Regions from separate parts of the Homo sapiens genome. Here all the other regions are reported to be linked to region 3. The links are microRNA targets in miRTarBase. Many come from high-throughput screens and were not tested one by one. Region 3 holds a microRNA gene; each other region holds the end of a gene's coding sequence.

Region 1 (4,239 bases), not on the chromosome of region 3:
TTAATGTGTCTGCTTCTCCTTTAGAACTTGAAAAGACAAACATTAGGTATGGAATTAGTTTTACCTTGGCACTATTCGGGGGATTTCTGATTTAGGAACTAGGCAGCTTCTTCTTAAGAAAACAGCCCTTTGTGGTTCCCTGCAGCTGCTCCTGTCCACCCATCTGCTCACAGAATCCAGCGGTGTCTGTTGCCCGCCCCTCAGCCCCAGTCTGAGGAGTGGCCCCAACGTGGAGAAGCCTGTCCTTGGTGCAGGGCAGAAGAACTAGGGCTGGGCATCCTCCTTTTGGTTTCTAGAAGAAGAAATTTTGATCATGTCAGACAGCCTCCTCAGATCAGCTTTACTGAGCTTGAGGCCGACAGCGGGGCTGTCCCCCACAAAGTCACTGAAGCCAGGGGACTTTTTCAGAGGTCGGCTGAAAAGCACACACATCTGGGGGTGGAAGATCAGGTTGATGGCTTGAGGCCTGTAGGATGACTGAGGGCATAAGATGTTCATTGGAGAAAGGTCTCCACAGATCCTGTAAGGGCCAAATTTTGAGAAGCCAAGCTGGGGGTCCAGCCAAGCTGTGCTCCACCAGGAATGACAGTCCCTTAGCTCTGAGACCTAAGCACAGGGAAGCAACTTATCTGAGGTCAGGGTGAGTGCAGAGATGAGAGTGGCAGCACAGTCAGCTGACAATTAAAGGGGTGTTCATTCCTCCAGGCCATGGGAGCACTTCTCTACGCATGATGATGACCCAGTTCTCTCCTAAGACACTTCCAAGAACGTAATATTTTAAAGAACACTGTTAGGTTAACCAAAAATTAGACTTGCTCCTCAGCCTGTCCCTCACACTGTCCCCTGGTTGGTTTCAGGGAACTCTGGATATGCACTGGGTGAGGAGGGCCTGCCCCCACCTCCAGGCATATCTGAGACCCCCTTGAGGAGAGGAGTTTTCCTCATGACTGTCCCTGCTGATAGCACAGAATTTACTTCATGATCTCAGCATGCCCAGAAACAAGCAGACAGTATTTCTTCACCCCAGAGAATAAGAGCATAGGGAGCAAAGACAAGATTTATTATTAAACAACTTTAATCCAAATGCTGATTATTATTTGCAGTGTCTGAAGGCACAAAATATACCTAAAATGTATGGAATAGTCTAAACAGAGTTATAAATCCAAAGAGCAAAGCATGAAAAAAAGATACATTCTGAGCTGACACAGAAATCTGAGTTGGGAAGTTTTTTTTTTTCCTAGAGAACTTGCTTGAATATCAATCATTTCCCCTCATGCCAAGGGTAGAAAATTCTAAAAAAAAAAAAAAATATATATATATATATATAAACATGGTGAAGAATAACACCATGAGGTGTTAAGGATTTTGTATAAGCAGAATACTTCTCTTGAAGATGCTGGTCTCTCTCTCTCTCTCTCTCTCTCTCACACACACACACACACACAAACACACACACACAGGCGCACAAACACATCCTCCATCTCCCTCTCTTTCCTCCTTGACACTCATTCTAAGCAGAACCATCCAAGAAGACATCCAAGCTATACCCCAGAAGACAGGCCATCTCAGGGGGCAATGAGGAAACAGAGTTGGTGTGAGATAAGGCAGTGAGACCAGAGTTTGATTAAAAAAATAGAGAGATATATATGTGAAAAATTGACCATTCAGGGCAGGGCCCCCAACGTGCTGATGGAAAACAAAGCCTGCTCTTCCTCGGGGTCATGGTAGCCCACCTAGGCTTCTCTGAGCATGCCTGGCTCCAAGGTCCACATGCTCTGATTGGAGAAATGTCAATGGATTGCCTAGGTAGCACGAATATCAGACCATTCTCAGCATCCAGCAATAAATAACATAATTATAAACACTCTCTTCCCCACAGTGCTTTTAGCTGACTGTGTGATTTGGCCGTTCTTTACTGCTCAATCATGTCACTAGGGACTTTAGGAAAGAAATCAATCCTGGGCTAGTTATCACCCTCATAAATACATCTCTCTAGAAACTCTACAAGGCTATAGAAGAAGCAATCAATAGGACTTTGTATTTCTCCATGATCACAGAACCAGGCTCTCAGCTCCCTGATTACTGCTGGCTGTGGGAGCTCCACCTCCTTCAGTGACAGATGTGGGCTGTGTATTCCATTCTGACGGGTCTGGAGATCAGACTAACCTTTGTCTTTAGGAGAGGAACTGAAGTGACACAACTCAGATTCCCCCAGTTCCACTCCTAATGGTTCTTTCCCTGATTCTGTAGTTTAGTTGCCTCAGAAAGGGCAACTGAAGGAGGGGGCGCTGTTAGGTGGTCCTAGGCTTAGAAAACTGGGCTTCCCTGCAGCTGTACCTGCACAGGGATAGGCCTGGAAATCTCAGAGGTTATCAGATGCCTGAGTGGGGAGGGCCCCTGCTCTGGGTTGGATTGCTGCTTGAAGAGGACTCCAGGTCTGGTCTGGAGAGGGTCGTAAAGGTGGAAGGGAGAGTTTGTGCTGGAGCCAGCCCTGTTTGTTGGACTGCCTGCAGGATTTATGACCCAGAGATAGGCCTTTACTTTTGGGGCTACAAGCAACTTCCCTGGTGGATGGGAGTTACACTTATGCTTCTCACCTAAGGCGCAAGGCAAGGCTTCCTCCTACCCAAATAAACATGGTCTCTTTTCTCTATTTCTCAGCATGCCCCATCACCTGGAGTACTGGTCCACCCACCTGGGCACCTCCCCCAACTCTTACTAACAGAGTCCGTTTGCCTGACACCACAAAGCTTCTACTCCCTGCATCTATGGCCTCACTTCCTTCTCTCACCTGGGACCATGGGTCCAAACCCAAGGGAATATTCTTCCTCTACCTGGCCTTTTGTTCCACCACCTCACCTGGTCCATGCAACTAACCCCACCTCGCAACTCCCTGCCCCCATGGACCTTCTTCCAGACCAACCCCACCTCCGCCCAGTCTCCCTGAGGAAACGATGGAGTCTGCCCTCCTTCCCCCAATATTCTATCACTTTTTGATTCTTCTAATTTTGAAAAGAAAATGAAAAACAAGGCCAACAGTATGATATGAGAACAGCTCAGTATCAAAGCCCTCAATTACCTCACTATGGGTAATTGTCAGCTTCTCTCGGGCCCATGGGGCAGAGGCACACTGCAACACACACAGCGGTGACTAACTCGTCCCGCAAGATCCAAGACAGGACAGGATAGCCCTGAGTCCAGGGCACCTCCTCAGCCCCAGGCTACCCAGAACAGCCGATCACCCTACAGCACAGCAACCCAGTGGGCCAGCCCAATGCGGGCTCCAAACTCACTCTTTATCAAGCTGAGGGACTAAAAGGGACGAGGTGCCAGGAGCAAAGAAATGGGGCAGCAAGCTGTGGGACAAGGCAGCGAGTGGCATGTGGGGTTCCTCGTCTTCCCTTCTCCCCCAGCAGAGAGGGGCTCCTTATCTGGTCGCCCCTCCTGCCCTCAGAAAGGCCCAGGAATGGGGGGGCTCCTTTGGCACTTCAGAATGATCACAAGTAATTTGCCTTTTTATTCATATAGAACAAAATTTACAAAGTCATTCATACAGTTTTTGTGTTTTTTTACTGACTTCGAAAATTGGGAATATTCAAAATACACTTTTACCCCACTCCATTCTGTCATTATTTACACATATGTACAAGAAAAATGAAAGAGTCTCTGTGTATGTGTGTGTGTGCGAGTGTGTGTGGTTTGTGTTGTTGTTTTCTTGTATTAAAAAGCTCTGCTGGTCGGGTGGGTGGGAGGGTGGGCAGGAGGGCAGGCGGCGCAGTCAGATGGAGGTCCCGTGGGAGGTGTCCAGAGCCTCTGGAAGGACGCCTCCAGGCACGGGCTGGAAGGACATGGGGATGGGGGTCTTCACCGGGCTCTGCCGGAACAGCCCCCCGTTGGGTGACCTGTGTTTGCACTGCATGGAGGGCATGGTCGCCGAGCTGCTCAGCGGCAGCGGCAGGTTGCTGCTGGGCCCTGATGAGAGTGTCCGGCTGGTGCCATGGCTGCTCTGCTCTGGCAGAAAGGTGCTGACCGAGAGCTGGGTGTTCTGGTACTCCCGTGTCGGCTCCAAGGTCTGGGTGGGAGCCAGGCCCCCCATCTCCAGGGCCGAGAGCTCAATCGACGCTGGGGAAATCTGCTTGTGAGCAATGTCTTCATCCATGAGGCTGTTCATGCGCCGGTGGACCTGCTCCAAGTTCACTTCTTTGTCCTGGAGGGAAGGCATAGGAAGGTCAGGTGGAG
Region 2 (4,243 bases), not on the chromosome of region 3:
AGGTCAACCCTCATTCAGCATCAGAAAGTTCACAGCGGAGAGACTCGTAAGTGCAGAAAACATGGTCCAGCCTTTGTTCATGGCTCCAGCCTCACAGCAGATGGACAGATTCCCACTGGAGAGAAGCACGGCAGAGCCTTTAACCATGGTGCAAATCTCATTCTGCGCTGGACAGTTCACACTGGTGAGAAATCCTTTGGATGTAATGAATATGGAAAAGCTTTCAGTCCCACCTCACGACCCACTGAAGATCAGATAATGCATGCTGGGGAAAAGCCCTATAAATGTCAAGAATGTGGAAACGCCTTCAGTGGAAAGTCAACCCTTATTCAACATCAGGTAACTCACACTGGTCAGAAACCATGTCATTGCAGTGTGTATGGGAAAGCCTTCAGCCAGAGTTCACAGCTCACACCACCTCAGCAGACTCGTGTTGGAGAGAAACCTGCTTTAAATGATGGCTCTAAAAGATACTTTATTCATATCAAGAAGATTTTCCAAGAAAGACATTTTTAATGTGATAAATGCAGAAGACAGTTTAGCAACTGTTCACTTGACATTAGAAGATAAGATGGCATAATGAAAGATATATAAGGTCTAAATATTACTGGCAAAGTAAAATAAATAGTTCAGATGACTACTAAAGTCAAAGTCATTAAATCTGGAAGTAAACACGAGAATTCATTCTGGGAAATCAGGCTGTCTGTGTAAAGGTTACTGCTGTGCTCAGGAGTTGAACCGTGTGGTGCTGTATCCGGATACTCATGACGAATGGATGGAGGGCGTGAAAAGTGAGCCCAGCTGGTGCTCTGGGTCTACCCTACCTGACATCCTTCCAGTCTTATCCTTTGTTTCCTATCCAGGCCCAGGCTTGTGGCTGAGAACATCCACTTTCAGTCCCATATACCTGCCTCCAAGTGTGGTACAGAGAACTTGGGCCTGCTGGGGGCGCTTAGCCTTACTCTCTCCACCACCTCTCCCACCAACCCCCAGATGAACTGCAGGTAGACGTTTCTTCCTTGCTTGGAGCCCCAGTTTTTGCATTTCATTTTCATTAAAATGAAAGGTGGTTTGGTTTTGGTTCTAAGGAGCTCTACAGTTTAACAGAGAGAGGGACCTTAGGGGCCAAGAAAGCAGGGGCCTACCAAGTATCTCCACTTTTGAAAATTGTAATTACTGATAAAAAATTTTTTAAAGGCAGGTTTATTGAAGCATAATTTATAAACAATAAAATTTACTCTTTTTAGTGTATAGTTCTTTGGGCTTTGACAAAAACATACAATTGTGCCACTACCACATTCCAGACATTGAACATCTTCACCACCACCCAGAATTCCTTTGTGCTCTCTTGTGGTTAACCCCTCCTCAACCCCAGTCCGTGGAAACCACTGGTTTGTTTTCTATCCTCTATCCATCACCTCACCATTTCCAGAAATAGTGTGCAGCTGTTTGCACGTGGCTGCTTTTACTGAACATGATGCATTGGAGTCATCCATATTGCCTGTGTAGAGTGCTTTTTTGCACCGAGTAGCATTCCATTGTATGGATGGAGCCATTTGTTTATCCGTTCACCCATGGCAGGGTATTTGGGCATTTTCAGTATGGGCAACTATGATTAAAGCTGCCATCACTGTGTATCAACTACAGGCTGTTTTGTGAATCTAACTTTTCAGTTATCTTGGGTAAATAGGAGTGGGATTGCTGGGTCATATGGTAAGCTTATGTTTAACATTTTAAGAAACTGCCAAACTTTTACAAAGTCAGTTGTATATCCCCACTGATGATGTGTGAGTTTAGTTGCTTTGAATCCTCACCAGATCTTGGTATTGTCCTTTTTTTTTTTTTTTTTTTTCCGAGGCGGAGTTTTGCTCTTGTTGCCCAGGCTGGAGTGCAATGGCGCGATCACGGCTCACCACAACCTCCGCCTCCCGGGTTCAATTCAAACGGTTCTCCTGCCTCAGCCTCCTGAGAAGCTGGGATTAGAGGCATGCACCACCACGCCCGGCTAATTTTGTATTTTTAGTAGAGACGGGGTTTCTCTATGTTGGTCAGGCTGGTCTCCAACTCCCGACCTCAGGTGATCCACCCACCTCAGCCTCCCAAAGCGCTGGGATTACAGGCATAAGCCAACGTGCCCAGCAGTATTGTCCATTTTTTAATATTCTAGCTATTTTAGTGGAGATGTAGTGGTATCCATGGTTTTAATTTGCATTCTCCTATTGACCATGGTTTGATCAGTAAGCATCTATTTAAAGAGTTTCATTGGGAAGTTTGAATAACACTGTAGTAGTTTCTCAGAGTGTGATCACCTGTGAAATTCTGATCTTCAATTCTTTTTTTTTTTCTCCTTTTTTCTGAAACAAAGTCTCGCGTTGTCACCCAGGCTGGAGTGCAGTGGCACGATCTCAACTCACTGCAACCTCCGCCTCCCAGGTTCAAGCGATTCTTCTGCCTCAGCCTCCCGAGTAGCTGGGACTACAGACGCGTGCCACCACGCCCAGCTAATTTTTGTATTTTTCTTAGAGACGGGGTTTCACCATGTTGGCCAGGGTGGTCTCAAACTCCTGACCCCATAATCCGCCCTCCTCAGCCTCCCAAAGTGCTAGGATTACAGGTGTGAGCCACCACGCCCGGCCTCTGATTTTCAATTCTGAGACTCTACCTGCAAGAATCTTTTTTCTTTTCTTTTCTTTTCTTTTTTTTTTTTTGAGACGGAGTCTCATTCTGTCGCCCAGGCTGGAGTGCAATGGCGCAATCTCTACTCGCTGCAAGCTCCACCTCCTGGGTTCACACCATTCTCCTGCCTCAGCCTCCCAAGTAGCTGGGACTACAGGCGCCCGCCACCACGCCCAGCTAATTTTTTGTATTTTTTAGTAGAGACGGGGTTTCACTGTGTTAGCCAGGATGGTCTCAATCTCCTGACCTCGTTATCCGCCCGCCTCGGCCTCCCAAAGTGCTGGGATTACAGGCATGAACCACCGTGCCCGGCCAAGAATCTTTTTTCAAATCTACCTTTCATTCCCTCCAGGTCTAACTGAAATATTTCCCCCCTTCAAGGAGCCTACCTTAGTTAATCTCTCATTCCATCTTTGTTTTCTTTTTTTCTTTTGAGACAGTGTCTCACTCTTATCACCCAGGCTGGAGTGCAGTGAAGCGATCACAGGTCACTGCAGCCTTGACTTCCTGGGCTCAAGCAACCCTCCGACCTCAGCTCCCAAGTAGCTGGGACTACAGGCACACACCACCATACCCAGATAATTTTTTAATTTTTTGTAAAGATGGTGTCACACCATGTTGCCCAGGCTGGTCTTGAACTCTTGGAGTCAAGCGATCCACCCACCTTGCCCTTCCAAAGTGCAGGTCTTACAGGCGTGAGCCACGGCGCCTGGCCTTACTGTTTTCTTAGGGAATTTGGGGTCACCGCTACATTTGGTTTAACATCCATTCTGTGATTTGCTGCGCTTATTCCCCCGCTCAGGTTCTGTCTCCCCCACTTTATTATTAAAATTCTTATCACAGAACCTCTTCCAAGTGTGGGAATTGCCAGCCTTAGTGTGGTCCATGTGGAATGGTCCACACAAAAGAGGGAGTGGATAGCACAGGCTCACCTGGAGGGTCCTGTCTCCCTCTGAAATGGATTCACTCTGACCTCAGGGAAAACACTGAATCTTCTTGGGTCTCTTTTTCTCCAGCTCTAAAATGGGGGAAAAAAACACCTCCCCCACGTCTAAAAAATAACTCTTTTACCCTTGTATCCCACAGCACAACATTCATATCCCCACCATTTCAACTTACATTTTCCTTTCTACCTCGTTACCCTACATTATACGGAGAACTCTCTGCTGTCAGAGATGTTGTCTTATGCACCTTTTTATCTCCAGCACACGATACAGAACAGGTGCTTAGGATGTACTTGGGAAGGAAGGAAGAGAGGTGAAGGAGGCAGAGAAAGGAAACAGTGCCAAGAATGTGCTTTGCGTAAATGTGAACCTTGTGTTCTGCTTCTGCTCTGTCCATGAGCACACTGGGTACATTAAAATTGTTTTCTCCTTCTGATCTACTGGAAAGGTCCCACAATGATGCCTCCCTTAAGAGGCCCACAGGCCTCACATTTACGTAGAATGGAAGGAAGCACCGGGGCATGGGAGGGCTTGTGGGTGGCTCTAAGGGCTGTTGTGACACGTACTTGCTGTGGACCCTGGGACTGAGGATGTTAGTAGGACAATGCATGGTTAAGCACCAA
Region 3 (4,243 bases):
CATATAGATGTACTTTCCATGTAACATCCACAATCCTTGGCCAAGTCCTGGGTACAAAGTAATTGGCTGATTGATGGGAAGGTAGGAGATTTAAGGTGTGAAGTCAAAAGATACTATCTAAGAATAAAGGAAGAGCTGTGGTTTTGCCCAAATTGTGCTTGGAGAGGATAGAAGCTTGCAACTTTATTGAAAACGCTTGCCTTGCAACTTCTAAAGCTAACCATTTATAATTCATTTTTACCATTACCTTTTCCACCCTTTGGCACTGAAGAAAGATTGGTCGTGTTTCAATCACGTTTTCTGCTCTCACACTACTTTTTATTCTTTTTTTCCCAGACCTGGTTGAAGATAATATTGATGAGTCTTAAAAAAAAATGCCAGCATTTCTACTCATGTTTTAACAAAAATTGGAGAGTCTAGATTCACCCATGAAAAGGTATAGTTTACACTAGATTTCTGGAAATTCCGTTAGCACATTATAATGATGCAGCATATTTTCTATCAAACTGAAAGACTAAATTTCACACTAAATTTTTTTAAATTGTAGAATAGACCATGTGCGATGGCTCACGCCTATAATCCCAGCACTTTGGGAGGCCGGAGTGGGTGGATTGCTTGAGCTCAGGAGTTCAAGACCAGCCTGGACAAAATGGCAAAACCCCATGTCTACAAAAAATACAAAAAATTAGCCAGATGTGGTGGCGTGTGCCTCTGGTCCTAGCTACTTGAGAGGCTGAGGTGGGAGGATCCCTTGAACTCAGGTGGTCGAGGCTGCAGTGAGCCCTGATCACATCATTCTACTCCAGCTAGGGCAACAGACCCTGTCTCAAAAAAAAAAGAAATTGTAGAATATAGTCAACTAGATCACTTCTGTCTCACTTTTTATAACAAAGCATTTAAAAATTGAATAAATAATAATACATATAGAAGTTTGATTTTTATCAATTTTCAGTGTTCAGAAATTATGACTCATAATTCAAATATTATCCCTCTAGTTATTATACCCAGTGAGCTTTTAGCAGATGTCTAAATCAAAAATGAATTAGCCATAAATGTTCAGATTAGTCCTGGGAAGATTATATTAATGTGGCACAGATTTACAATAATTTTGGGGGAGCTCATTTAATTCAAAAATTATCCTTAGGACTAATGAATATTGTAGGAAGTTTTCCTTTCAACTTCAAATGTACTCTAGCGATTTTCTAATAAATCATACATTTGTCATACTAAAAACTCACCTTTGCTAATTATAGTCAAATCAGATAATTTTTATTATTTTGATAGAAAGTTTTTCAGTTATTATCATCAATGAAATTAAAGACTACTCTTCCACCAGTGATTATTCAATTTGAATGCAAGTCTAGGCTCATTACTTTTATTCCCTCTCCTCCAAGATAATGTTAAGTGGTTATTTAAATAGATTTACCTGTTCCTCCTATGCTTGGAATTCAAATGGAAAAAAAAATTTTTTTCTCCTCATTTGTATTTACTAAATACCTCTGCTTGTGTTTGACATGTTCCATGAGCGTGATTATTGTTAAATTATGTGCGAATTCACACAACAGTTAACTCAAAATCTACAGCATATAAAATTATGTTTTTCACAGCTAGACCTATTCCATTTACATAAAATAATACTTTAAAAACATACACTTCCCAATTGATAGACTTAAAGTAGCTATTGCAAATCACTCTATGATGGTAGTAACAGACATGGAGAGAATTTGCCTTAGTGGGCAGAATGCCCAGCAATTTGAAACTGCTTTCTCCATAGGTGGTAGCAGAACTATCTGGGAATTATCTCAGTGTTAGTATGCACATAGCACAACAAACTGAAGGTTTTCAAAGAGCAGAGCTAATGGAGCAAACCATATGCTAAATATCTGTGTTGGAGACCAACTCCAACCGATCTGCAGGACCAAAAGCTGTATAATAGTAGTTTCATATATTCAAATATTTATCGATTGCTTATTACATGCCAGGCACTATGCCAGATGCTGGGCATGTAGTAGTAAACAAGGTAAACCAGGCCCCTGCTCCAATGGAGCTTACATTCTAGCTGGAGATACAGAAAATAAACATTTAAACAAAGATGTAGGATAATTTCAAATCGTGATAATTGCTATGAATAAAATGAAATTGCATCATGAGATAAAGAGTGATTGGGGTAAATACATTAGATGGATCCATGTACATAGCCATAGCTTGAGGTTAGATATCTTTTAAATATTGTAATATACAAATAATATTTGCCAGCATTTGCCAGCTACTCTCCATCACAGTATAAAATAGTTATTTTATACCGGTGAGTTAAGTACACGACAAGTGTCACTGATGGGAGCAGATCAAAATTTTCTGTTAATTTGATTTTAATTTTGCAAGCTAGAAAAACAAATCCTCTTTATCTTTTGTCAAGACACTTAAAAATCAATTTAGTTGCATACTAAAATACATTCCCACTTACATTTACAATGGTGTCTCTTCACCCACAAGCAATTCCTACTTCCCATTTCATTAGATTAAGAGATCACAAACTTTTCACTTTATAACAGGCTCTTCTGGTTGTGGAGGGTTCCAGCTGAGTCATGAAAAGTGAAAAGTTCAGTCAGTTGCCCAGATGTATTTATTGCCAAATAACACAGGGTACTTGGATACATCTGGACAGCCGAATGAACTCTTAACTCCTCGTCTCTCCAACAGCTCTTCCTTCTCGGCTTCAAGACATCCTATATAAAGGGGAAAGAAACAAACAAAAAGCTACTTCAAAGTTGAAGGGTCAGTTTCTGGTTTTGCTGTCTCATCTGGAAAAAAGAAGTGACTTCTGCTATTGTTTTATAACTTATTGATATAAAATGTATACAACTCATAAAATGTAGAAATAGCTAGAAGTACCAGATGAATCTTGTTAAATTCAAATATGTCATGAATACAGAAAACTGAGACAACAAAAATTAATTTGCATAATGAATAATTTATATAATGTATAATTCATTCTAGTATCATTCAACACCCTAGCCGTTAAATATGTGTGATTAGCATAAAGGACATTAGGCTGGGCAGTAGGAGACATGAGTTCTAGTCTTGACTCTTACCACTTCTTGATGTGTCACTCAAACTTTTTGAGCCTCACTGTTTTCATCCATGACACAGAAGTTGCAATAGAGGACCTCTATCCCTTTTTGCTCTGAAATGCTGTGAATTGGGTTTTCTTGCTAAATTGTTGACATTATTCTACGCTGTTTTACAAACAAGATACTTCTAAATAGCTGAGTTTGGTTACAATTAAATCTTACTTGTTATTGCTAATTAAATATAAAACATAGCATTCACCTGACAAAGCCTTTTGTTTGAAAGGAATGCGAAAGTGACTTTTAACTTGAGTATTCTCATAACTCAGTCTACACATCCCACAAATTAATATGTAGGTATTCTGTACCATGCCTTTATCTACTTCCTTAAATGAATCCTTAAATACATTTCTCATTCTTAAAGAGTTAGGAGACCACACAGACTCATAAAAATTTTAAACAAAATTGTTTATTGGTGATTTTATTTTAAAAAATCTTCTGCCTAGAATATTTTACAGAAAAGTGAAGTATAAGAAGTAATGGCCAGTTTTGTAGCTATCTAAAGCTTGGCTTCTACTTTAGTGGTTTAATTCTCAGGTAGAATCTGTTTATGGTTTTGTGTACTCTTCTACCATTTTGTTTATTTATGGAGAAAAATAGTACTTCAGTTTGACAACTTTGAAAATAGTGTTTCCTGTCCCAGTTCTACAAACGTTATATCAGATGGTGTCAATATTTAGCGAAACTGATATGCCTATTTTATAACTCCCCTCAGTGTAATTAAAGCTAAAATATCAGACCACAAATGACATGTAATATATTTTCACTTTTTAAATTTTCTAATTAGATTTGTGGAGAATTCTTCAACTTACCCTCTCAGAGTACCTCCTGTACAACTCAATTTATAAAATAAAACCTGTCAGAAAATTCGAACTAACAAATCTTCAAATCCTTTTGCTCATGACTCTGTGTGTGTATGTGTGTGTCTGTGTATACGTGTGTATGCATGTGTTTTGAGAGTGAGGAATGAAAAGAAAGGTGCTACAACTACACACATTTTATTATAACCACCATCCAAAGCACCATCATTTCATAATCATTTCATAATAATTCAAAGCCCTTTGAATGTTTGAATATTTTCCTTCACGTTTTTCAAGAGGGAGAAGTAACTTACC

What was found. Region 3 holds the annotated microRNA hsa-miR-1298-3p (CAUCUGGGCAACUGACUGAAC, at 2,600-2,620, opposite strand). A microRNA usually pairs through its seed, bases 2 to 8, with sites in the 3' UTR of a target mRNA and lowers its output. Matches are read on the target gene's strand: a 7mer-m8 pairs with bases 2 to 8, a 7mer-A1 pairs with bases 2 to 7 and ends in A, and an 8mer does both.
Region 1: miRTarBase lists GRID1 as a target of hsa-miR-1298-3p. Seed matches in the 3' UTR shown: 7mer-A1 at 3,429-3,435.
Region 2: miRTarBase lists ZNF251 as a target of hsa-miR-1298-3p. Seed matches in the 3' UTR shown: 7mer-m8 at 989-995.

What each region holds. Positions count from the first base shown.
Region 1 is chr10:85,598,495-85,602,733 of GRCh38, forward strand. GRID1 (glutamate ionotropic receptor delta type subunit 1) reads right to left here. Exons shown (of 16, transcript NM_017551.3): 16 at 1,058-4,207. The coding sequence ends at 3,779. All of the region lies in intron 2 of GRID1-AS1 (GRID1 antisense RNA 1), which reads left to right. Among named protein-coding and RNA genes, the nearest start is that of GRID1-AS1, 23 kb to the left of the region's middle.
Region 2 is chr8:144,717,917-144,722,159 of GRCh38, reverse strand. ZNF251 (zinc finger protein 251) reads left to right here. Exons shown (of 5, transcript NM_138367.2): 5 at 1-1,251. The coding sequence ends at 516. Among named protein-coding and RNA genes, the nearest start is that of ARHGAP39, 34 kb to the right of the region's middle.
Region 3 is chrX:114,713,681-114,717,923 of GRCh38, reverse strand. It overlaps MIR1298 (microRNA 1298), which reads right to left and starts at 2,691; the gene lies at 2,580-2,691. All of the region lies in intron 2 of HTR2C (5-hydroxytryptamine receptor 2C), which reads right to left. LOC105373313 (a long non-coding RNA gene) reads left to right here. Exons shown (of 5, transcript XR_001755943.2): 5 at 337-430.